Homo sapiens: one gene and its partners. The protein of the gene in region 5 purifies or fractionates together with the protein of the main gene of each other region. This does not show direct contact. Each region holds a gene or a part of one and is shown on either strand. Other genes may lie near its edges.

Evidence for each region.
Region 1: the proteins of FKBP3 (region 5) and DIMT1 fractionate together in Homo sapiens (co-fractionation; one large-scale study listed by BioGRID). This does not show direct contact.
Region 2: the proteins of FKBP3 (region 5) and MYH10 fractionate together in Homo sapiens (co-fractionation; one large-scale study listed by BioGRID). This does not show direct contact.
Region 3: the proteins of FKBP3 (region 5) and EIF2B3 fractionate together in Homo sapiens (co-fractionation; one large-scale study listed by BioGRID). This does not show direct contact.
Region 4: the proteins of FKBP3 (region 5) and ITIH2 fractionate together in Homo sapiens (co-fractionation; one large-scale study listed by BioGRID). This does not show direct contact.
Region 6: the proteins of FKBP3 (region 5) and NELFB fractionate together in Homo sapiens (co-fractionation; one large-scale study listed by BioGRID). This does not show direct contact.
Region 7: the proteins of FKBP3 (region 5) and MAP1S fractionate together in Homo sapiens (co-fractionation; one large-scale study listed by BioGRID). This does not show direct contact.

The regions. Positions count from the first base shown.
Region 1 is NC_000005.10:62,390,406-62,393,905, forward strand, and holds part of DIMT1 (dimethyladenosine transferase), read right to left. Parts: intron 2,586-3,500; coding exon 2,521-2,585; intron 1,830-2,520; coding exon 1,766-1,829; intron 1,602-1,765; coding exon of another isoform or gene 1,566-1,601; exon of another isoform or gene 1,314-1,565; intron 621-1,313; exon of another isoform or gene 578-620; coding exon 471-577; exon of another isoform or gene 1-470. UniProt on the Homo sapiens protein: Specifically dimethylates two adjacent adenosines in the loop of a conserved hairpin near the 3'-end of 18S rRNA in the 40S particle.
Region 2 is NC_000017.11:8,624,226-8,627,725, reverse strand, and holds part of MYH10 (myosin-10), read left to right. Parts: intron 1-3,500. UniProt on the Homo sapiens protein: Cellular myosin that appears to play a role in cytokinesis, cell shape, and specialized functions such as secretion and capping. Involved with LARP6 in the stabilization of type I collagen mRNAs for CO1A1 and CO1A2.
Region 3 is NC_000001.11:44,980,096-44,983,595, forward strand, and holds part of EIF2B3 (translation initiation factor eIF2B subunit gamma), read right to left. Parts: intron 1,083-3,500; 5' UTR 1,074-1,082; coding exon 926-1,073; intron 1-925. UniProt on the Homo sapiens protein: Acts as a component of the translation initiation factor 2B (eIF2B) complex, which catalyzes the exchange of GDP for GTP on the eukaryotic initiation factor 2 (eIF2) complex gamma subunit.
Region 4 is NC_000010.11:7,709,816-7,713,315, forward strand, and holds part of ITIH2 (inter-alpha-trypsin inhibitor heavy chain H2 precursor), read left to right. Parts: intron 1-3,365; coding exon 3,366-3,470; intron 3,471-3,500. UniProt on the Homo sapiens protein: May act as a carrier of hyaluronan in serum or as a binding protein between hyaluronan and other matrix protein, including those on cell surfaces in tissues to regulate the localization, synthesis and degradation of hyaluronan which are essential to cells undergoing biological processes.
Region 5 is NC_000014.9:45,117,482-45,120,981, reverse strand, and holds part of FKBP3 (peptidyl-prolyl cis-trans isomerase FKBP3), read left to right. Parts: intron 1-27; coding exon 28-95; intron 96-2,856; coding exon 2,857-2,954; intron 2,955-3,500. UniProt on the Homo sapiens protein: FK506- and rapamycin-binding proteins (FKBPs) constitute a family of receptors for the two immunosuppressants which inhibit T-cell proliferation by arresting two distinct cytoplasmic signal transmission pathways. PPIases accelerate the folding of proteins.
Region 6 is NC_000009.12:137,265,327-137,268,826, forward strand, and holds part of NELFB (negative elongation factor B), read left to right. Parts: intron 1-550; coding exon 551-653; intron 654-1,004; coding exon 1,005-1,100; intron 1,101-1,617; coding exon 1,618-1,760; intron 1,761-1,913; coding exon 1,914-2,020; intron 2,021-3,500. UniProt on the Homo sapiens protein: Essential component of the NELF complex, a complex that negatively regulates the elongation of transcription by RNA polymerase II.
Region 7 is NC_000019.10:17,722,480-17,725,979, reverse strand, and holds part of MAP1S (microtubule-associated protein 1S), read right to left. Parts: intron 1,855-3,500; coding exon 1,772-1,854; intron 932-1,771; coding exon 791-931; intron 152-790; coding exon 1-151. UniProt on the Homo sapiens protein: Microtubule-associated protein that mediates aggregation of mitochondria resulting in cell death and genomic destruction (MAGD). Plays a role in anchoring the microtubule organizing center to the centrosomes. Binds to DNA. Plays a role in apoptosis.

The DNA of each region.
Region 1 (3,500 bases), on a different chromosome or scaffold from region 5:
CCAGGTAGGATTCTAACTGGCATTATTGTATGCTTAAGATTGATTTAACAACAGCTATTCCCAGTAAGGAAATTTTAAAAATCAGATCCAGTTACATGTATTATGATTTTTCTACCTTATGGACTATTTTGGAGGGATAAGCTATTAAGACTAAGACTATGAATGAGAGTTGGGGAAGGAGCAGGAAGGGAGGAACCTGCACACCACATTGGAACCTGCACACCACATTAACACAAAGGCAATCTTCTGGCTCGGACTGTTCTTTACTACTGTTCTTAAAGAAAATGTTCATTCTGCTGCAGCTAACTAGCCTCCATCTTCTACACCAAATACTATTCCATGCCATGGAAGTGCTATGCAATAACTCTCCCAGGTAGCACCTTATACCGCTTAAAAGCCTTTAAAATCTCCAATCTGAAGGTGTCACAGTAAAGAAATGTAAACACTTAGGAAAACAAAAATGTAATTACCTGATGAAGTCATCTATGTCCATGGAACGGGCCCGTTTGTCACTAAAACCTGTGCTGGTTAGGATTTGCTGTATTTTATCTGCTATGCTGAAATCTTCTGGTATTATCTATCAATATAAGATTCAGAATAAATGAACGACATATCTTTAATGAGGTCACCTTGACTCTTTTTTTTAGTTCAGTAAGTCATAAAATAGTCACCTTTAATATATCTGTTAATGAGACTTTGGAAAGCCTGATTTTTACATTAAGACTTGGATCTCTAATTAAAAGTGGCTGATCTTTATTAACAAAAACTTGGAATACCTTGAATTAGTAATCCTGTCTATATTAGCCATTTTCTTCTTTAAAATTCTGAAATAGTTATTAGTTTCAGACTTCACAAATAATTACAACTGTAAATTAAATTTTAAAGCAATTGTTACTCCTTTCAAAATAATGCATTTTCTTCCTACAGATTTGACCTTAACCACCTCATTTTTCTCAAAGAGGTGACCTGCCCAAGCCTTGGGAATATTAAGGATTTTACACTTAATTCACATATTTTATCCAAAAGGATTTTACACTTAATTCACATATTTTATCCAAATATTTTTCTTAATCTAGCTTAATATTTTTCTATTATACTTAGGCAGATTATCTAATGACTTTTTGCCCATAAAAGAGAAAATGGAGATAGTATTGTGATACATTAAACCATATAGGTTCTGAGTCATAAAAAATAAAAAGAAAATTGGCCTTTCTCTCTCTGTTCTAATTAAACTGGAAGCTAAAAAGATAGCAAACATCACATCGCACACACTGTTACACAAATGATACGCATGAGGCTCACAACCAGAAATCTGCTATTGAGCCATATGAACTTTATTTCAATTTCTATACAAAGAAAGTAATAACTATATTTGTAACTGCTATGTGAGCAAGAAACAAGACGTGGTCACAATTCAGAGGACAGTAAACTACACAATTATTTTAAGTTGTGCAAGCTACACATATCTACAGCTTTGAGGAACCTGTAACTGCTGAATCTGATTCTTGTTATGGCTAAAAACAACTGTCAGTAGTTAGAGGACAGGGTGGAGTAATCAAAGTTGCTCATATCTGTTTCACAGGATACACAGCAGCACTGACCTGTCAGAATTCAAGTCAAAATTGTGCTAGTTATACATTATATATTGTCTTTTAAGGATCTTATGGAATGTACAAAATAATCTCATGCTAGATCAACAAGAATAAAAATGGACATTTTAAAAGAAAACAAATCAATGAAACTGCAGGAACATTTTCTAACTTACAATATTATGGACTGAACAGTGAATTCTGTAGTTTTTTTCCAAGAGTTGTTGCACTGCACTTGATCTATAGCATAAAGAAGTGATGCCACTGTTATTATTCCAAAGTCAGAGTAATTTCTTACTTTTTTAAACTTTTTTTTAACTAATACATAAGCCATTTAAGCAATAATTTCATTTTAGATGAAATTAAATCTATATTCTGTATGGTGAAATTAAGGAATTTTAAAAGTTGTTGAATATTTAAACTTATGAAGCAAACACTAAATATATTTAAAGTGCAAAATCCTAATACCTCTTAAATTCTTAGAGAAGTTCTAGACTCTCCACAAAAAATCCCCTAAAAAAAAATCTCCAAGCCCTGTAAAACTGTGTCTCACCTCTCTTTTACCCTTGAACCCCAAATTGATGAGCTGCATTTTCCCAGGTTAATTACATGACACATATCCTTCACAAGTGTGGAAGGGGTCCATCATCACCTCATTTTTCCAACAAAAAACTAGAGCAGATATATGGTCAGAGTTTGGGAGTGTTTTCCTGTTTTGCCAAAAAATGTGATCTGACTCTCAACTCCAGCAAACTTTCTTCATTAAGTTTGCTTTAGAGCCTCCCAAGCTCTAAAGATAGTTTAAAAGGTGAAGTTTGTCTGGACCCATAATCTTTATGCTTTAGGGTAGCTGCTCAGGAAAAGGACCAAATTCTAGCATAGTATCTGGAGCACTGGCCCTTTATACATTAGAAATTAGTGTAATACTTACTTAAATGCAGCAGAGAGTGTCTTGTTTTTCCTAACAAAGGTTATCCTTACTAGACCATCCCATTCCTGAAATAGAAGATAGACATTTTCTTCAAATTACAAACTTCTTGTTCTTGTCTATGCCCACTAGGTATTATTTTGTCTTTTAATATATACAATTGAAGGAAACTTTCTGAAGTGAAGAAAATGTTCTGTAATCTTGATCTGGCTGGCACACACATGCAAAAGTAAGACATACATTTGATTTTTGCACTTTGGCGCATTTCACTGAATATGTCTTTTCCTCAGAATTTTTTTTTGACAAAGCATGACAATTTTTTTTTTTAATTTGAAAAAATAAAGCCAGGCACAGTGCTGCATGCCTGTAGTACCAGCTACTCAGGAGGCTGAGGTGGGAGGATCGCTTGAGACCAAAAGTTCAAGTCCAGCCTAGGCAACATAGTGAAACCCCATCTTAAAAAAAGAAAGGGAAGGAAAAACAAAATGGTCCCACATCTGAACAAAGAACATGGCGTTTATTTAAATCTAAGTATCATTTTCAAAAATAAGATTCAAAACAGACATGACTTCAGATACTTCCTGTGTAACACACCTAAACCTCCTTGAAGGAGTTATTGACAAACCACTCCATTTACCACCAGTTGACCACACACACAATCACGTTTTTCTCTAATGTGGCTGTAGTAAGGTTTTATATCAAGTGGTCTTCTTTCTTGTTTTTAAATCTCAAAAAACAATTACAATGAAAAGATGTTACCCATAATACTACTTTAAAACAACTATTTTCATTTTACCTTGTTTTCCTAGTTTTATTCCATTTTTTCTTTTTTTTTTTTGAGACTGGGTCTCACTTCAAAACTACCTTGCATCAAATTATTCCATCTACTTCAGCACAGGGATGTGTCCTAATTAACATTTTCCTATGTTTGAATATTTAGGTTGATTCAATATTTTTCTGCTGTTATAGGCACACATCTTCCC
Region 2 (3,500 bases), on a different chromosome or scaffold from region 5:
TCCTGCAAAGCAAATCACTGGTGAGTGGTACACTGTTAAACACCAGTATTATCCAGATTGGGTACCAATGTATTATGGAGTGAAATAAATGTATTTGACAATTACAAGTGAAGAATTAAACTGAACAAAATATCTCCAATGGTCTCATGAACTCTATCAGGTAAACAATAATATGAACACTTAACAGCTGCAAAGCCCTCTGGTACAACGCAGGGTAGGGTAAGAAGAAAGTCAGGAGAACAGTACAAAATGTTAGGAGAAGGAAAAGGATTAAATTGCCACATTGACCTGAAAAGAACTTCTGAAAGGATGGCATTTGGGTCAGGAGTTGAAGGAATAATAGCTTTTTGGTTGTGGAGAAGTTGAATTTCACTATGAGGGTTGGGACCATTCACGTAAATATTGATCAATAGGTACAGATCCCCTGTTATATACCAGGGACTAGACAAAATGCTCAAGATACAGCGTGGAACAGATGACTCTCCTCATAGTGTTTAGTTGTAGAAGAGACTGAAAAGGTGAAAGTCATTGGTAATCCTACTACCCAGTAAAGACCCAATGAATATTTGTTCCGTTTAAAAAAAAAATACACACGTGTATGTAGTTTTCCCCACAAAATTGGGAACATGCTGTGTAATTACACTTTTGTGTTCTACTGGGTTTTTTAAAATACTAAATTACAAGCATTTCCCCATCTAGAAAAAGTACTGATAATATGTAAGATGTCCCAATTTGATAAAATAATTTTAAGATATATAATCTACTGCTTCTAGACCTGTTCTAGAAGTTATTTGTTAAATTATTCTAATTTATAGTCACCTGCTAAATTTAAGCATCTAATTACATGTCCAGTGTAAAATTTAAGAAGTGTGTGCGTGTCTACTGACAGCAAGACAGTTTCCTAAGTGCTCTGTAGGATATGCAGTTTACACCTGATAAGAATAGTAAGAGAAACTTGTCATATTTTGTTATAGTTGAATATTTTCTTTTAATAGATTCTACCCTTCTGAAAGGTGGAGTGTGTATCCTATTATTTGTTCTCAAATTTACCTGTGATGTTTCCCACCTTGAAGCCATGCCTCCTTTCTTCTTTTTTTTTAAATTTTTTATTTTACTTATTATTATTATTATTATTATTATTATTATTTATTATTATTTTGAGACAGAGTCTCATTCTGTTGCCGAGGCTGGAGTGCAGTGGTGTGATTTCAGCTCACTACAACCTCTGCCTCCTGGGCTCAAGTGATCTTCCTGCCTCATCCTCCTGAAGAACTGGGACTGCAGGCCTGTGACACCAAGCCCAGCTAATTTTTTGTATTTTTTGTAGAGACGGGGTTTCGCTATGTTGCCCAGGCTGGTCTTGAACACCTGGACTCGAGCAATCTACCTGCCTCGCCCTCCCAAAGCGCTGGGATTACAGGCGTGAGCCACCCCACCTGGCCTCCTTTCTTTTTACCAGTGTGCAACGTTTAAGTTGGAAAGAGACAACTTGTTAATAGTGTTATTAGACCAGTCCCTAGAGGCTTTTAAAACTGTTATGCAGAATGTACATGTATCTATGAATGTTTTCTGTATTGCCCTCTCCAAAGAGGATGTCTTAGAAGACTAATGCAAGTTTAGGTATAAAATGTGTTAGCAATTTTATTTGTATAGAAGTTTTAATAACATTAATCACATGTTGTGTGATTTTTTGTTTCATCTTATTTTGCGGTTTTTGTTTTATCCAAGTCTATAACCTTTAAGACATCAACATGTTATTTAAATTGTTATGAATTAGTCTAGAATTTGGTTTTCAACCTCTTTTTCTACTCTAACATACCTGCTGGTAGCAGTGGCGCACCATGGCAACCACAGAACTTTGGAGCAATGGTTGTCAAATGTGTCCCAGGACCAGCAGTGGCAGCAGCATCTGGGAACTTGTTAGAAATGCAAATTCTGAGGCTCAGGCTGGACGCGGTGGCTCACGCTTGTAATCCCAGCACTTTGGGAGGCCGAGGCAGGTGGATCACCTGAGGTGAGGAGTTCAAGACCAGCCTGACCAACATGGTGAAACCCCATCTCTATTAAAAATACAAAAATTAGCGGGTCATGGTGCAGGCCTGCCTGTAATCCCAGCTACTTGGGAGGCTGAGGCAAGAGAATCACTTGAACCCTGGAGGCAGAGGTTGCAGTGAGCTGAGATTGCGTCCACTGCACTCCAGCCTGGGCAACAGGGTGAAACTCTGTCTCAAAAAAAAAAAAAATAGTTCTCAGGCTCTACCCTATACCTACTGAATCAGGGACTCTGGGATAGAGCCCAGCAATCTGTATTTTAATAAACCCTCTAGGTGCTGCAAATGCATGCCTGAATTTGACAGCCGCTACTATAGAAGATGAGTGTTTGTAACGCATTACATTGCAACAAGTAATTTCTGAAGAATCTTAGCTATTTGGTTCTAGTAAATTATTTTTTTAAATTTATTTTTGTTTGTTTTTGAGACGGAGTCTTGCTCTGTCACCCAGCCTGGAGTGCAGTGGCACGATCTCAGCTCACTGCAACCTCCGCCTCTCAGGTTCAAGCAATTCTCCTGCCTCAGCCTCCTGAGTGGCTGGGATTACAGGCACCCACCACCACGCCTGGCTAATTTTTTGTTATTTTTGGTGGAGATGGGGTTTCACCATGTTGGCCAGGCTGGTCTCGAACTTCTGACCTCAGGTGATCCACCCATCTCGGCCTCCCAAAGTGCTAGGATTATAGGCATGAGCTACTGCACCCAGCTGGTTCTAGTAAATTATTAGTAGTAGTTAAAGGGCTAGATATGCACCAACACGCCTGGCTAATTTTTAAATTTTTCTGTAGAGGCGGGATCTTGCTATGTTGCCCAGGCTGGTCTCAAATATTTGGCTTCAAGCACTCCTCCCACCTTAGCCCCTCAAGTTGCTGAGATAACAGTTATGGGCCATTGTGCCCAGAAGTTGGTTGAATGTGTAACCACTATCAGTGATTAATCTTTTAGGATACAGATAGAGCCCTTTAGAATCTAGAGAACGTTATAGCACATATATACACACGCTAAGTGCATAATATTTTTATACCATTTCAGGGATTTTGTTGAAGTTGAGATTAGCTGATGGACTCAAGAACCTCTTAACAACCTTAGACTACTTTATGATTTCCTCTTGCCTACAAAGAACCTCTAGCATTTTTGGCTAGGGGAGTGGAGTGAACAGAGGGGAGAAGTGGGGATTTGATAGAGCAAGAGTAGGTACTCAGTTGGCTTCTTCTGTTGGTTTGAATGAAGTGATGGAAGCCATGCCTATGAAATTTATAATAACCTGGAATTTGGAGTAGCAGCAAAAATGTTTAAGTTGGTATCAAATCCCAAAAAGATCCTGTCAGGCAATCATGATGAGTCACATTAGAAAGATGATGGATGTAAAATCCTGCCATTTGGTCCAGAAAGCCAGTGCACAAGTAGAGGAGGGGACATAGCTTAGCCACAAAGTGATGGAGCTTCCTC
Region 3 (3,500 bases), on a different chromosome or scaffold from region 5:
ATCTAAATATAGGACACCTCAAACTCAATGTGACCAAAGCTGAACTCATTATTTTAATGAAAATAAAATTCATTAAAACCTTTTCCTGGCCAGGCACGGTGGCTCATGCCTGTAATCCCAGCACTTTGGGAGGCCGAGGTGGGCAGATCACGAGGTCCTGAGATCGAGACCATTCTAGCTAACATGGTGAAACCCTGTCTCTACTAAAAATACAAAAACTTAGCCGGGCATGGTGGAAAATGCCTGTAGTCCCAGCTACACAGGAAGCTGAGGCAGGAGAATCACTTGAACCCGGGAGAGGTTGAACCCTGGCGGAGGTTGTAGTGAGCCAAGATCGTGCCACTGCACTCCAGCCTGGGTGGCAGCGTGAGACTCTGTCTCAAAAAAAAAACACCTGTTCCTTGTCTCCTATTCCTTTTCCTACTTAATGGCATAACTATCTACCTAGCTACCCAAGCAAAAAGTAGAGAGGATCACTAGACTTTAAAGTTCTGGAAGTCAGGGCCTGAGCTGTCTTTTCAATTCTGTACCTCCGTGTTTAATATATAACCTGGTACTTACATCAAAACAAAATTTAAAACATATATATATTGAATATCAGATAATATAAATATTACCTGGTACATAATAGATTCTCAGTAAGTACTGACTATGAGGCATTTAAGAGTCTCAATCTGCTCTTTCTGATATCTTTACAGAGTTCGTCTTGGATCATTGTGGACATCAGCTCCATAACAACAACACTTAGTGCTATCCTCTCAACCTTTTTCACACAGCAATAGAGTACTCCTACATTCCTTAAAGAAGGCAGTCTTCAGCCAACGAGTTCTAGTCACCCTCTCTCATTCTCATAACGCTGACAAATCATGGGGATCAAATCTCCTAAAAGTTTTATGAGTTCACAGCTCACTTTGTCATAGCTCACCTTCAAATCCAACACGCTCAAGCAGGTTCAATGGGTACCAAATTAAAGGTTTGTTCCCAACTGGAAGCAGAGGTTTGGGAATGCTGGAAGTTAGGTCTGTCATCCGAGATCCTCCACCTACTGCCATCACTACTGCTTGAAATTCCATTTTTACAAACTGCAAGTACAGAAAAAACAATTAACAGAAAAAAAACAATGTAACAAAAATCAAAGCACACATACTACTAGCCTATTTTTATTTAGGTTACTGATACCCACTATGTCAAATGCATAATTCCTAACTCTAGCAATCACAGTAAGAAAAGCTTAGCTGCAGATAAACATTATGTCTACCAATATGTATTCTCAGTTCTATCCTTGGTAAAAGTGGGAGGATAGGAATGCAGGGGCTTTGCCCTTGAGTTATTCACAATTAAGTGGAGAAGACAAATTCAGTAAATCACAATATATGTCATTAGTGCCACAGCAGAAAAATATCCAAGATACAGTGGGCATACAATAAAAGGAACACCTAGTTTTCATTGAAAACACAGAGAAGTTTTTATAGAAAGTGATGCTTGAGCTGACTCTGAAGAAGTAAGAGTTTACCAAGTGGACTTCTGATGTGTGAATTTTTATTCTTTGAAAATATTAGGCTGGGTGAGGTGGCTCACATCTGTAATCCCAGCACTTTGGGAGGCTGAGGTGTGTGGATCACATGAGCTCAGGAGTTCGAGACCAGCCTGGGCAACATGGCGAGACCCCATCTCTACCAAAAATACAAAAAATTAGCCAGGGGTGGTGGCTTGTGCCTATGGTTCCAGCTACTTGGGAAGCTGAAGTGGGAGGATCATTTGAGCCTGGGAGGCAGGTGTTGCAGTGAGCCGAGATTGAGATTGGACCACTGCACTCCAACCTGTGTGACAGAGTGAGATCCTGTCTCAAAAAAAAAAAAAAAAAAAGAGAGAAAAAAGAAAATATTAAAAGATGCCTGACTAGAATTAACAGCAGAAACACAAGCATGTTAGGCTTCTGAAAAGTATGAAATGACTTAAGACTCCTCCAATAATTCAGCCATCGGCTCATCTTATTCCTCCAATTTTTAAAGATATCACTATAAACACAAACGTAGGCTTGTATCTGAACCTAGATTTACAGAACACAATTATAAAAACAAACCAAACTGTTAATTCCTTTTTTCAAACTCAAGGTAATAAACAAACCTATTTGACTTTGAAAAGAATCTCTTTACAGAAACTACCACAGAACAGAGGCACAGTAGAAGGTCATAAATCTTTATTTATGTATTTATTTTTGGAGATGGAATTTCACTCTTGTTGCCAGGCTGGAGTGCAATGCCGTGATCTCGGCTCACTGCAACCTCCACCTCCCAAGTTCAAGCGATTCTCCTGCCTCAGCCTCCCGAGTAGCTGGGATCACAGGCATGGGCCACCATGCCTGGCTAATTTTGTATTTTTAGTAGAGATGGGGTTTCACCATGTTGGCCAGGCTGGTCCCAAACTCCTGACCTCAGGTGATCCACCGGAGTCGGCCTCCCAAAGTGCTGGGATTACAGGTGTGAGCCACGTGCCCATCCTATTTATTTATTGTTTATTTAGAGACAGAGTCTTGCTCCATTGCCCAGTCTGGAAGTGCAGTGGTAAGATCATGGCTCACTGCAGCCTCAACCTCCTGCACTAAAGCAATCCTCCTGCCCCAACCTCTGGAGCAGCTGGGACTACAGGTGGGTACCACCATGCCTGGCTTTTTTTTTTTTTTTGAGACGGAGTTTCTCTCTTGTTGCCCAGGCTGAAGTGCAGTGGCACGATCTCAGCTCACCACAACCTCTGCCTCCCAGGTTCAAGTGATTCTCCTGCCTCAGCCTCCCAAAGAGCTGGGATTATAGGCATGCACCACCACGCCCAGCTGCCCAGCTAATTTTGTATTTTTAGTAGAGACAGGGTTTCTCCACATTGGTCAGGCTGGTCTCGAACTCCCAACCTCAGGTGATCTGCCCACCTTGGCCTCCCAAAGTGCTGGGATTACAGGTATGAGCCACTGCACCTGGCCGCCTGGCTAATTCTTTTAATTAATTTTTTATAGAGATGGGGTTTCACTATGCTGCCCAGGCTGGTCTCAAACTCCTGGCCTCAGGCCTCCTGCCTGGGCCTCCCAAAGTGCTGAGATTAGAGGCATGAGCCACTGCACCTGACCGATCTTTACTGATTTAAACTGAAAGTACTTTCTCTTACAATGATGTAATTTTAAGAACAAATGTGTTAAAATGTAACGTTCAGAAGAAACAATCTATTCAACATCAAATTGCCAAATAATGTTGCAACTTTACTATAATTATTATTACTCCTGGGCCCAGCACATCAACATCTAAAGTGCAGCACTTAACACCTACTATACCCAAGGCACAAAGTGAAGGCTCCTGCATAACATTCACAATGTAAAGATATGGTCATGTAGATTCTAGCAAGCATTGCCTCAAAGTGTAATTTAATTTCATTTTGGTATTATATAACATCCACCACATCAAATGTTATTATGAAAAGAGCACTGGACCCTTAAGAGTCAAAAGATGAGCTGG
Region 4 (3,500 bases), on a different chromosome or scaffold from region 5:
TTGAAGTGTTCATAGATGAAATGATGTGCCATCTGAGCTTGGCTTCTTTTTTTTTTGAGATGGAGTCTCGCTCTGTCGCCCAGGCTGGAGTGCAGTGGCGTGATCTCGGCTCACTGCAAGCTCCGCCTCCCGGGTTCACACCATTCTCCTGCCTCAGCCTCCTGAGTAGCTGGGACTACAGGCACCCGCCACCATGCCTGGCTAATTTTCGTATTTTTAGTAGAGACGGAGTTTCACCGTGTTAGCCAGGATGGTCTCGATCTCTTGACCTCGTGATCTGCCCGCCTCGGCCTCCCAAAGTGTTGGGATTACAGGCGTGAGCCACCGTGCCTGGCCTTGAACTTGGCTTCTTAACAACTAAGGTGGAAAGCATGAGAGTACAGACAAATTAAGATTGGCTGAGTATTCATAATGGTGTAGCTCAGTGATGGTTTCATGGACATCTCATATTATTCCCTCTATTTTCTGTGTGTTTGAAATTTTTCGTAATAAAAGAAGGTTAAACTACTCCAATACTTTCCAAACAGTTAATACCAGTTATCCACTTGGAGCCTTCATGTATCAAAGTTAAATATTCTCTGTTCCTCTAAGTGATTGGAATGATTTCTATGTCCAAATATCAAGGTGGCCAACCCAGAGTATGTTCCAGGTGGTCAATGTCCCTCTTAAGTTGCCAAGAACACAGCAAAGTACTGTGCATAAAGTCTGGCTATTTTTTTTTTATGAAGACATTAGGTTGAATTACTTCTCATCCACTTTTGTCTTTCATACACCAAGGTAATCAGTGATCATTGTGGATAAATAGTAAAGGGTTCAACCACCATGTACTTTGGCTGCCGAAAGTGGCAGTCATGTGAACTCTAACCAAATAGGCAGAAAAAGGCATTGTGTCACTTTAATTGGTATCCTTTGAATTGGCTTTAAAATGTATCACTTTTTTTGTCTGCCTTTTCTAAAAAGCAAAGGGAGAAGGAAAGGCTTTTCTGTACTGGTATTATATGACCCCATGTCTAGAAATGACATTGAAAACTATTTTAATAAATTCCTATTTTTAAACCACACAATCAGAATTTACTCAAAAGATCTCTTATTTCTGTTTTCCTTCTTTTTTTTTTTTCTTTTTTACTTTAAGTTCTGGGATACGTGTGCAGAATGTATAGGTTTGTTACATAGGTACACATGTGCCATGGTGGTTTGCTGCACCTATCATCCCATCATCTAGGTTTTAAGCCCCACATGCGTTAGCTGTTTGTCCTAATGCTCTCCCTCCCCTTGCCCCCTACCGCCCGACAGGACACGGTGTGTAATATTCCCCTCCCTGTGTCCATGTGTTCTCATTGTTCAACTCCCACTTATGAGTGAGAACATACAGTGTTTGATTTTCTGTTCCTGTGTTAGTTTGCTGAGGAAGATGGCTTACAGCTTCAACCATGTCCCTGCAAAGGACATGATCTTATTCCTTTTTATGGCTGCATACTATTCCGTCCTTCATTCTGTTCTTTCTTTACTATCTCATTACATAGAAGATTTGAAGTACAAAGGACAGAATCGTGAAACATGCATTTACTTTTATCTCCCTCTGCTCTGAGCTGAATCTATAAGACCAGAGAAGATACCTGCTTAATTATCACAACTTAAAATGAGCTGTGTAGACCTATGTACTAGCCAAAATATCCCTTTTACCTTTTTATCAAGATCTTGAATATTCTATGGGAGATGATTTCCTTTGTCCTAAAGACCCCTTGGCCTTTGAGACTTAGTTCTGATTCGATAGAAGCATGATGGCCTTGACCAGCAGTGTGACCTTGGCAAGAGTCACCTGTCTCCTGGGGTCTGATGTCTCTCATCTAAAGGGGCAAACCCACAAGTGTGCCTCAACACACGTGCTGTTGGCATTTGGGGCAGGAAAATTCTTCAGTGGAGCTGTCCCTCATATTGCAGGATGACTAACATTCGTGGTGTCCTCCCACAAATGCCAGCAGCACTTCCAAGTCATCTCAACAACCCAAACTTCACACATTTCCAAATTGCTCCTTGGGAAAGACACTGCCCATTTGAGTACTGGAAGTTCCCATGTACTTCCAAAATTCTGGATTCTACCACTCTGACCAACCATTACTTGGTAAGGATTAGGTGCTAGCCAGCTAAAGGTAAGGTGTATAGAGATGAGATGCAAATAGAAGACAGAGGTCCCCAAGGGAGATGGTTTCCAGATAAACACCACCTTGGCAGGGGACCCACCAGCACCTTCCCCCTTTTTCTTTATTCTTTTCCACCCTTGCAGAGGAGCATAATATTCTGTCTTCATCAGCTCCGGCTGCTATGACTAAGTACCATAAAATGGGTAGATTATAAACAACAGAAATTTAAAATTCATAGTTCTGAAGGCCGGGAAGTCCGAGATCAAGATGCCCAAGGATTTCGTGTCTGGTGAGGGCCCATTTCCTGGTTCAGTCAAGATGGAAAGAGATGAGAGAGCTCTTCGAAGTCTGTTTTTTATGACAGCACTAAATGCTATTCATGAGGAGAGAGCCCTCTCCAAGGCCCCACCTCGTAATGTCATCGTCCTAGGAAGTAAGGTTCAACATGCACATTTGCGGGGAACATAAACATTCGGTCCATTGCATACCCCACAGCGATGCCAAATTCTTAGCTCACAGAATGACCTGATGAACCAGTAATGAGATAATTCGGAATTTATCAGTCACCTCCCCTAATCACATTTGTCATTCAAAGGGGATACCCAAAGAGAACCATCCTTAATCTAAAGGATGAAATTCAAAGATGAGGAAAAATCTATAAACAAACAACAGTACATGAGGGAAAGGTTTTAGGATGGGAGCCTACCAAACCCCTCTCAAGCCACACTATCCAATCAATAAAGGAAGTCCTGTCCATAAACTATTTGAATGCCTCCCTTCTTATTTCTTATAGACACAAAATGATCATTGCCCTCATTCATTAAATTAGCCTTGTTGGGTTGTTTGCTCGCTCTTGTTTGTTTTGCTAAGATTACTATTCTGGGCCAGGCGCGGTGGCTCACACCTGTAATCCCAGCACTTTGGGAGGCCAAGCCAGGTGGATCATGAGGTCAGGAGATCGAGACCATCCTGGCCAACATGGCGAAACCCAATCTCTACTAAAAATACAAAAAATTAGCCTGGCCTGGTGGCAGACGCCTATAATCCCAGCTACTCAGGGGGCTGAAGCAGGAGAATTGCTTGAACCCAGGAGGTGGAGGTTGCACTGAACTGAGATTGCACCATTGCACTCCAGCCTGGGTGACAGAGCAAGACTCCATCTCGAGGGGAAAAAAAAAAAAGATTACTATTCTGACCAACTGGTTACCTTCTGTCATTTTCTAGGACTGTGGACGGCAAGACATTTAGGAGCTCTATTAAGGAGAAAACTGTGGGCCGAGCTCTTTATGCACAGGCCAGAGCAAAAGGCAAGACGGCTGGCTTGGTGAGGTAAGGCCTGAGTGAGCAAGGCTTGCCCTT
Region 5 (3,500 bases):
TAATGATAAGGAAAATCTGTTTTACAGGTGCAAAGAAGAAGAAAAATGCCAAGCCTTTAAGTTTTAAGGTCGGAGTAGGCAAAGTTATCAGAGGAGTAAGTAAAGAATGCCAATGAATCAGTAGATATTCTGGCATATGCTGCTTCTGGTATGGTGCTGTAAAGAATTAGGTTTGGGGATATAATACAAAGGAAACAGACTTTGGAGTCTGACAGATTGGGTATAATCATTGTTAGCTGATCTTGCACAAGTTATCTCGGTCTCAGTTTCGCTACATATAAAATGAGGACAGTACTGCCTACCTCAAGGTTTTTAGAAGATTAAATGAGCATAACTTGAAGTACCTAATACAGTAGGGGCTTAAATATTAGTCCCTTCCATGTGTACCCATTTTATTATTTTTCTTCATAAAGTAAGTCTTTGTCAGAATGTTTGGCCCTCTAAATTTAAGGTTCCTGTAAAATGTCTTATAACTGTTGTACCATTTACATATAATTTGCAAAGGTAAAATATCTGTCCCACTGAAGTATTCACAGAAGCAGAGTTTGTTTCTGCAGCCTTTTCACCTCATACAACATAGGCTGCAATACCAGAAAATCATTCAAACATGAGCATGCTTTAACCTACACTTATATGTGAGAGATAACAGAAAGAAACTTTGAGAAAAGAGGAAGTTAGGCTTGACCCGTACTGACCATTATACTGTACAAAAGAAGATAAAAGAGTAGGGCAGACTGTCACCTTCTATGAATCAGGTTTTCATGCTAAGGCCTGCCCATTGTGCCCATTGTTTGTTTTAAATTGTTATTCTCAGAACATCAGACATCAATAACTGAAATGCCTATTTAAATGCAGTTATAGGAACCTTCAATATATTACTCTCTGTACAATCAGTAGGTCCTAAGATATGGTTCAGACAATCATATACAGAATATAAAACATCTTAAAACTAAAGGTTTAGTTGAGCATAACTTATAATTGTTACCTGCCCCAGCCAGGCGTGGTGGCTCATGCCTGTAATTGCAGCAATTTGGGAGGCCGAGGTGGGTGGATCACAAGGTCGGTCAGGAGATCGAGACCATACTGGCTAACACTGTGAAACCCGTCTCTACTAAAAATACAAAAAATTATCTGGGCATGGTGGCACTTGCCTGTAGTCCCAGCTACTTGGGAGGCTGAGGCAGGAGAATTGCTTGAACCTGGGAGGTGGAGGTTGTAGTGAGCTGAGATCACGCCACTGCACTCCAGCCTGGGCAACAGAGCAAGACTCCATCTCAAAAAAAAAAAAAAAATTGTTACCTGCCCGTACCAAGTTGATAGCAAGTATATTATCAAATTGGGCCATTTTTCTATTTCTGTAACTTATTTGCATACTGGTAAATTTCTTCTAGTCTACCGTATTCTTTTTTTTTGAGACGGAGTTTTGCTCTTGTTGTCCAGGCTGGAGTACAATGGTGCAATCTCGGCTTACTGCAACCTCTGTCTCCTGAGTTCAAGCGATTCTCCTGCCTCAGCCTCCCGAATAGCTGGGATTACAGGCATGCGCCACCACACCTAATTTTGCATTCCTAGTAGAGATGGGGTTTCATCATGTTGGTCAGGCTGGTCTTGAGTGCTGACCTCAAGTGATCGCCCTCTTCATCTTCAGCCTCCCAAAGTGCTGGGATTACAGGCACGAGCCACCTTGCCCGGCTAGTCTACCATATTCTTATTTTCCAAATGTGACCACCCTAACTTTGTCCCTTGTGCTTTATATGATTGTTGCATTTCAATACAGCATATAATATTAGGAATATTATCCCTTTGGTGATGTGGATTTAACTGTTTGTGGAAACTAGCTTTAAGATCCAAATTTGGAAAATATGGAGAGGCCAACCCAGAAGACTTTTATTGTTTCTTTGAAAAGTTAGTTTTACCTTTTGCAAAAGATCTTAGTGCCGTAACATTTTAAAAATTGTATTTCCAAAATTAGCTGGGCATGCCTGTAATCCCAACTACTAGGGAGGCTGAGGCAGGAGAATCGGTTAAACCCGGGAGGCAGAGGCTGCAGTGAGCCAAGATCACGCTATTGCACTCCAGCCAGGGCAACAAGAGCGAAACTCCATCTCAAAAGAAAAAAAGAAAAAAATGTATTTTATGTGCCAACGTGACTCCACTATTACAATCTGGTAATCTTAAAACAATTTTACAGTGAGTACTTGCCAGTGTATTCCAATAAAAATAAACTCGTTTGTCCTGTGATGTAAAAGTGTTGCAGGTTTATGATGGTGCTAATAACTAACTGGTTTTCATAATGTATGGCATGTTACAGTTTACAAAAAGTTTTTTTTTTGTTTTTTGTTTGTTTGTTTGAGAAGGAGTCTCACTCTGTTGCCCAGACTGGAGTGCAGTGGCTCAATCCTGGCTCACTGCAACCTCCACCTTCTGGGTTCAAGTGATTCCCCTGCCTCAGCCTCCCGAGTAGCTGGGATTACAGGCACCCACCACCGCACCCAGCTAATTTTTTTATTTTTAGTAGAAGATGGGGTTTCACTATGTTAGCTAGGCTGGTCTCAAACTCCTGACCTTAAGTGATCTGCCCACCTCGGCCTCCCAAAGTGCTGGGATTATAGGTATGAGCCCCAAAAGGTTCTTTTCACATTAAAAAAGCCCTGCTTAAAATACCCTTTTTTTTCTATTGAAGAAATGGAAGACAAAGATTTAGGGACTCACTGAAGTACATTATCTTAGAATATAGTGAAATCTATAGTAATAGATTCTGTGTTTGTTTTAACATACAATCTTGTCTTGACTGTCCTGGTATTGCATGTGCTTTTTGCAAAATACCATTAGTTTTTATTTTGTTCTTGCCTTTAGTGGGATGAAGCTCTCTTGACTATGAGTAAAGGAGAAAAGGCTCGACTGGAGATTGAACCAGAATGGGCTTACGGAAAGAAAGGACAGCCTGATGCCAAGTATCCTTTTTTCCCCTTCATAATTAAAGTTGAAAAAAAAAAAACGTCTAGATCACCTTTGAGGATGTGAAAGATGCTGTCTAGGCAAACTTCTGGATCAAGAATCCTGTCCAGACTAGTCTTCCTGATCTTTAGATGCTTATGTGTCAGCACCTCCAATAGGCAATAGTATTTTCTATTGATATAAAGTTCAAACCTCAGCTAGAATTTTTGTTTCTCTTATTCAAATTCTTAACTTTCAAGACCTTAACTGTGAAGTTTAAGCTTAAACAGCAATTCTTAATGTTTTTAAGAGTTTAAGAAAAGTTACCATGCCCAGTACAAACTGTAGCAAACTACGATGCAAATATGGCTCATGGTAATTTTATGGTACAGTATAATTTCAGGCAATTAAATTCAAAGCTTAGAAATGGAATAGATGTGGGAGATTACCAGTTGTGAACTGAAGGAGACCACAGAATCAACAGTGTTAGTGTAAGCATTTATTATTACTACTAATGACAATACTCACTGATAAGTCCAGTTTGTGAACATTTAAAAAAAAAA
Region 6 (3,500 bases), on a different chromosome or scaffold from region 5:
TTTTAACTTTTTAATTTGAAAAATCTTTGAATAGGTTAAGGACAAATTGCAAACCTTAAGCTTTTTTTTTTTTTTTTTTTGAGACAGAGTCTCGCTCTCTTGCCCAGGCTGGAGTGCAGTGACGCGATCCTGGCTCACTGCAAGCTCTGCCTCCCGGGTTCAAGTGATTCTCCTGCCTCAGCCTCCCGAGTAGCTGGGACCACAGGCGACCACCACCACGCCCGGCTAATTTTTTGTATTTTTGGTAGAGACAGGGTTTCACTTTGTTAGCCAGGCTGGTCTCAGTCTCCTGACCTGGTGATCCATCCGCCTCGGCCTGCCAAAGTGCTGGGATGACAGGCTGAGCCGCCGCGCCCGGCCTGCCAAAGTGCTGGGATGACAGGCTGAGCCGCCGCGCTCGGCCATCCTTAAGCTTTTTGTAAGAAACCCAGCATGTGATGGGCACCCGCTGCCAGTCCTGAATTCAGCCTAGGCCACCCCTCCTGAGGACTGTGCCGCTGAAGGGAGGGGCAACAGGCGTCGCATTAATGCCAGGGCGGCCTCCTTCCAGGGACCTGTCCATGATCCTGTGTGACCCCTTCGCCATCAACACGCTGGCACTGAGCACAGTCAGGCACCTGCAGGAGCTGGTCGGCCAGGAGACACTGCCCAGGGTGAGTGTGGGCTTGGCCAGCAGCTGTCGGGGCCATGCGGCCACTCCGCTGGCTGCTCTGGGTGGTCAGGGTGTGGACAGCAGCGGCCAGGTGGAGGCAGCTGTTGGGGCCCTGTGGCCGCCCTGCTGGCTGCTCTGGTGGTCGGGGATGTGGACTGCAGTGGCCCAGGTAGAGGCGTGTGCTTCCCCGCTGTGAGACTGCGTTTCACCCCGTGTGTGGGGCTGGTGATCGCAGTCGTGTGGTCCTGGCCATGGGCACCAGAGATCCTGCTGAGTAACGAGTAGGGTCAGAGGAGCTCCATGGCCAGGACACAGCTGCCTGGGAGAGGCGCTGAGCCCGTCCTCCCTACAGGACAGCCCCGACCTCCTGCTGCTGCTCCGGCTGCTGGCGCTGGGCCAGGGAGCCTGGGACATGATCGACAGCCAGGTCTTCAAGGAGCCCAAGATGGTAACGAGCCTCCTGTGGGGGCTGCCAGTTTCCTACGAGGGGTTGTGGGCTGGAAGTGGGGTGGAGGGGGAGGCGCTAGCAAGGTGATTGTGGAGGCCCCTTTGGTCCCAAAGCTTCCTTCCTGGAGCTGCCCACCTTCCTTTTGGGAAAATGCCCACCAGGGAGGTTCTGGGGTGTCTCCGTGGACCCTGGCTGGTTCTGGGGTATCTCCATGGCCCGTGGCTGGTTCTGGGGTGTCTCCGTGGACCGTGGCTTGTTCTGGGGGTGTCTCCATGGACCATGGCTGGCCACAGGTGGTGACTACTCCATGTGGGTCCAGACCTAGAAGGGGGTTTGAGGAGATGGCCTGGGTGGGGGACTCGGGAGGTGGGAAGAGGGACCTGGGGACCTGGAGAGGAGGGAGGGTCGGTGAGGTATCTGGGGGAGTGGGAGGGCCAGGGGCAGGGTGTGTGTCACGTCAGGGTGGGGTGGGGCAGGGCCCGGGCCCGCGCCCGCTCATGGCCTCCCCTCCTCGTAGGAGGTAGAGCTCATCACCAGGTTCCTCCCGATGCTCATGTCCTTCCTGGTGGATGACTACACTTTCAATGTGGATCAGAAACTTCCGGCTGAGGAGAAAGCCCCAGTCTCATATCCAAACACACTTCCCGAAAGCTTCACTAAGTACGGGCTGTAGGGCCATGGTGCAGGGGTGGCCGTGGCGCAGGGATGGCACTGTTGCCCAGGGGGCTGCCTCAGGGCTGGGCAGGGGTCGGTGTGGGGCTGAGGTGGGGCTGAGGTGGGGCTGAGGTGGGGCTGATGGCGCCCCGGGCGCAGGTTTCTGCAGGAGCAGCGCATGGCCTGCGAGGTGGGGCTGTACTACGTCCTGCACATCACCAAGCAGAGGAACAAGAACGCGCTCCTCCGCCTGCTGCCCGGGCTGGGTAAGTCCTGACGGGCGGTGCCTGGCTGTGTCTTCCCTGCGGCAGCTGCCGTATGCAGTCCTGCCCAGGGTGCGGGCCCCAGGGCCCCCAGGAGCTGCCTTGTCTCCCCAGCCCACCTCCAACTTTGCTAGCTTTGTTTTCACCTTTTTTTTTTTTTTTTTTTTGAGATGGAGTCTTGCTCTGTCGCCCAGGCTGGAGTGCAGTGGTGCAACCTCAGCTCACTGCAGCCTCTGCCTCCTAGGTTCAAGTGATTTCTCGTGCCTCACCCTCCTGAGTAGCTGGGATTACAGGCGCGTGCCACCGTGCCAGGCTAATTTTTGTATTTTTAGTAGAGACGGGGTTTCTCCATGTTGGTTGGGCTGGTCTCGAACTCCTGACTTCATGATCCGCCCGCCTCGGCCTCCCAAAGTGTTGGGATGACAGGTGTGAGCCACCACTCCCAGCCTCGTTTTCACTTTTACTTTTGTTTGTAGTTTATTTTACTAGGAAAGGGAGAGGGAGTTCAACTTTGTGCTTTCCCACAAAAAGGTGATGTAAGAGCTGTCTTTATTTCATCCTAACTGGCGAGGGGCTTGGGACCCCTCAGGTGCTCAGAGAATGGAGCAAAGGGGAGGGAGAGAGATCCCCTGCCCCAGTGCCCCACCCCAGGTGGTGACAGGCCCACTTCCTCCTGGGGGCCTTGACGGGGGAGGGGTTGTTGCAAGCCAGGAAGAAGAGGAAGGGTCCAAATGGGCACCTTCAAGAGTAGAGCTGCAGGTCCCCTGGGAGATGGGGCCTCTTTAGCCTGCTGTGGGTCCCATGGGAGATGGGGCCTCTTTAGCCTTGCGGTACCCACTGTGACACAGACCCTGGGCTCTTCCTTGCTGACTCAGGCCTTGTCTGGGGTTTGCTGTCTTAGTCCACGTTATGCTGCTCTAACAGAGACTTGAGACTGAGTAGTGTAGAAAGGGCAGGGACGGCCGGGCACGGTGGCTCAGGCCTGTAATCCCAGTGCTTTGGGAGGCTGAGGCGGGCGGATCACGAGGTCAGGAGTTCGAGACCAGTCTGGCCAACATGGTGAAACCCTGTCTCTACTAAAAAAATACAAAAATTGGTTGGGCATGGTGGTGGGTGCCTGTAATCTCAGCTACTTGGGAGGCTGAAGCAGGAGAATCCCTTGAACCTGGGAGGTGGAGGTTGCAGTGAGTGGAGATTGCACTATTGCACTCCAGCCCAGGCGACAGAGCGAGACTCCGTCTCAAAAAAACAAAGAGCAGGGACTTCTCCCAGTTCTGCGGGCTGGGATGGGAAGTCCGAGGTCAAGGGGCCTGCATCTGGCTGGGGCTTTTTGCTGTGTCATCCCATGGTGGAAGGCAGAGGGCAAGAGAGCACGGGCAGGGGAGACAGACAGACACAGACAGAGATGAGAGACAGAGACACACAGACCAAGATGAGAGACAAAGATGAGAGACACAGAGACAGAGATGAGACACAGAGAGAT
Region 7 (3,500 bases), on a different chromosome or scaffold from region 5:
CCGGGGGGTTCAGCCGCAGCTGGAGCCGGAGCGCCCCCTGAAGGCCAGGCACAGCGGGTGCCAGCTGAGCCCAGTCACCGAAGGTGGGGCAGGTGATGGTGAGTATGGGCGGCTGCACAGGTGGGGGCGTGGTGGCCAGGATGTCCCGGATCTGTATGGAGGAGGAGTGGTAAGGGACCACCTAGAGCCAGGCAACACCTAGCCCGGTGGGAAAACTGGGCGAGGACACCCTCATCCTTTCCCCCAGGGCCTGCTCCTCAGGGCCCTCCCGCCAAAACCCAACCCTCTCCAGCGCCACAAGGCTCTTTGATCTGGCCTCACCTCCTGTCTCTCCCTCCCCTTCAAATGCCTCCCTGCCCCAGGGCCTTTACACTCACCATTCTCTCCTCCCAGGGCACAGCTCCCTCCAAGGAGACTCTCCACGCCCCACCTGTCTACTGAACCTTTTCTCACCATTTTTAAGTGCCCCACTACAATGTGAAAGTGAGGTTTGCCATTTTGCCCATGTGTCCTACCCAGACTGCGGGCACCAGGAAGGACCCATTTGGCTCCATCCCTCATCAGGACTTTGGGACATCTGCTGACCTACAAACTCAGCTCACACCACACCCTTTCGCGGGCAATGGGACTGACCCCAGACAGCCAGGAGGCATGTGTCACCACTGCCATCCTACAGAGGATGGGGAGACCAGGCCATGGAAAACAGCAGGTCGCTGGTGCCACACAGCCTGATACACCCCAGTCAGGATTCAGAGCTGGGGAAGCAGGGGATGGCAAAGGGGTGGCTTACCTCTCTGTCCTTCAGGACCTGGAGGAAGTGGTGAGGCGAGAAGCCCCCTGTCTGTAGCAGCAGCTCCCCCGTCTCCTCCAGGCAGGGCCCAGCCAACACCAGTAGCTTGTGAGAGGCAGGGTCCAACAGAAGGTTCCGGAGCTGAGGGAGGGGGTGAACACTAAAGGACCCGTTCTGTGCAGTGACGTATCCAGCAGTCCTCTTTGGGGTAGCCTCGAGTCGATACATAACCACCCCTCTCCTGTCCTCACCCCACGACCAGCCCAGTGCTCAACTAGCTACGAAGGCAGTCTCCAGGTCTCCTGCTGGGCCCTGGAGCAACCCTAGCAAACTCCTATTCATCCTACAAAGCCCAGCTCTGATGTCCCTTCCTCCTGAAGGCACTACTTGCCCTTTCTGGGCTCTCTCTAGTCCACCTCTCCCTCCAGCCCAGCCCTGATGCCACAGGGCTGGGGGTGTCTGTGTCTCACTCTGTCTCTTAAAGACTGAGAGCCCCTCAAGGGAACAAAAGGGAAAAGTTGATCCAAGGAATCAACCTGTAAGAAGGTCTGTAGTGGGATGCCCCAGGGCTCTGTCTGGTTCATCTTCCGGATGTATAATTGGTAGAGTACAGATGGCCACAAGCTGGTTAATGTTAGTGAGTCGATTCAGACAACTCCTGGGGCCTAGCCGGAGGGAACCCACAGGAGGAAAACCTGTCTGCTCTGGCCTTCCCACCTCCAGACCCACGCTGTCCTGGGCCCTGAGCTGGGAGTGCTTACCCTCCCCTCCCTCCCAAAGTCCAGGCTTTTCTGCTCCCACCCCAGAGGAGGGAAGAAGCGGAGGCTGAAGCCACAGGGAAGGCTTCGTGGGCGAAGAAGTGTGGTGCCGGGTGTCTTGAGAGGATCTGGGGCAGCATGAAGACAAGGACACGAGACAGGAAGACAGAGAAGGCACGGGTCCCAGCAGCCCGCCCCCTCCAGGACGTCAGCCATTCCCTACCTCATCATACAGGGACTTGTCTGATGGGTTCAGGAGGACCAGGGTCTCCAGGTTGTCTCCACGGTGGTGCAGGCTCCGCTGGCCTGTGGGGGAATCAGGCCGTCCCGGAGTCAAATCCTGCCTCCCCGTGTGACCCTCAGGGAACATGAACCCCTCTGGGAACCCACCCAGGGATCATATGGAGATTAACAGGCGCACGGCAGAGCTGCAGGTCAGGACCAGGCAAGAAAGAGAAACTCAAACCACCCCAGCTGGCCTAAGAGAGGCAGTAACCAGAGGGCCCCATCGTGCGCAGGGCCTGGTTTGCAGCTGTCACCCCTGGGAGTGATGCCACCATTTTCTTCTTTTTTTTGTGAGACGGAGTCTCGCTCTGTCGCCCAGGCTGGAGGGCAGTGGTGCAATCTCTGCTCACTGCAAGCTCCGCTCCTCCTCCCGGGTTCACGCCATTCTCCTGCCTCAGCCTCCCGAGTAGCCAGGACTACAGGTGCCCGCCACCACACCCGGCTAAGTTTTTGTATTTTTAGTAGAGACAGGGTTTCACCGTGTAAGCCAGGATAGTCTCCATATCCTGACCTCGTGATCCGCCTGCCTCGGCCTCCCAAAGTGCTGGGATTACAGGCGTGAGCCACCGCGCCCGGCCTTTTTCTTTTCTTTTTTTTTGAGACGGAGTTTTGCTCTTGTTGCCCAGGCTGGCGTGCAACAGTGCAACCTGGGCTCACTGCAACCTCCGCCTCCTGGGTTCAAGCAATTCTCCTGCCTCAGCCTCCCGAGTAGCTGGGATTACAGGCACACGCCACCACGCCCCATTAATTTTTTCAATTTTTAGTAGAGACGGGGTTTTAACATGTGGGTCAGGCTGGTCTCAAACTCCTGACCTCAGGTGATCCGCCTGCCTCGGCCTCCCAAAGTGCTGGGATTACAGACTTGACCCACTGCACCCATCCGGCCACATTTATTTTTCAGACAGAGAGCCAGAGCTCGAGGAGGGCCAATGAGGGCGAACGTGGACGAGGGTACATCCGGAGCAAAGGTCCTGAGGCAGGACTCAGCTAGGGGTGGGGCAGCATAAGGGCCGGGGCTGAAGTAGGGCTGTTTCTGGGATCCTGACCCTGCTCTGTCCCCCAGGGCCCGTATGTGTTTTAAACATCAGTACTGTGAGAGGGGGGTGGCAAGGAGCCAGAGCCGGGGTGGGGGCCGGTGAGGGCCAACCCGGACCAGGGTACAGCACCAGCCAAGGCCCCTGAGGCAGGACTGAACTGTGAACAAGGCTGAGTCTTGAGAGGCAGAGACCCTCCAGTGTTGCCAGCCCTTATCACATTTAACTTTCTTTCCTTTCTTTCCTTCTTTTCCCTTTCTCTCTCTCTCGCCCTTATCACATTTAGCTTTCTCTTTCCTTTCTCTCTCTCTCTCCCTCCCTCTCCCCCTCCCTCCCTCCCTCCCTCTCTCTCTCTCTCTTTTTTGAGATGGAATCTCCCTCTATTGCCCAGGCTGAAGTGTAGTGGCACGATCTCAGCTCACTGCAACCTCTGCCTCCTGAGTTCAAGCAATTCTCCAACCTCAGTCTCCCAAGTAGCTGGGGTTATAGGCGCTTGCCACCACAACCAGCTAATTTTTGTATTTTTAGTAGAGATGGGGTGTCACCATACTGGTCAGGCTGGTCTCGAACTCCTGACCTCAGGTGATCCACCCACCTCAGCCTTCCAAAGTGCTGGGATTATAGGTGTGAGCC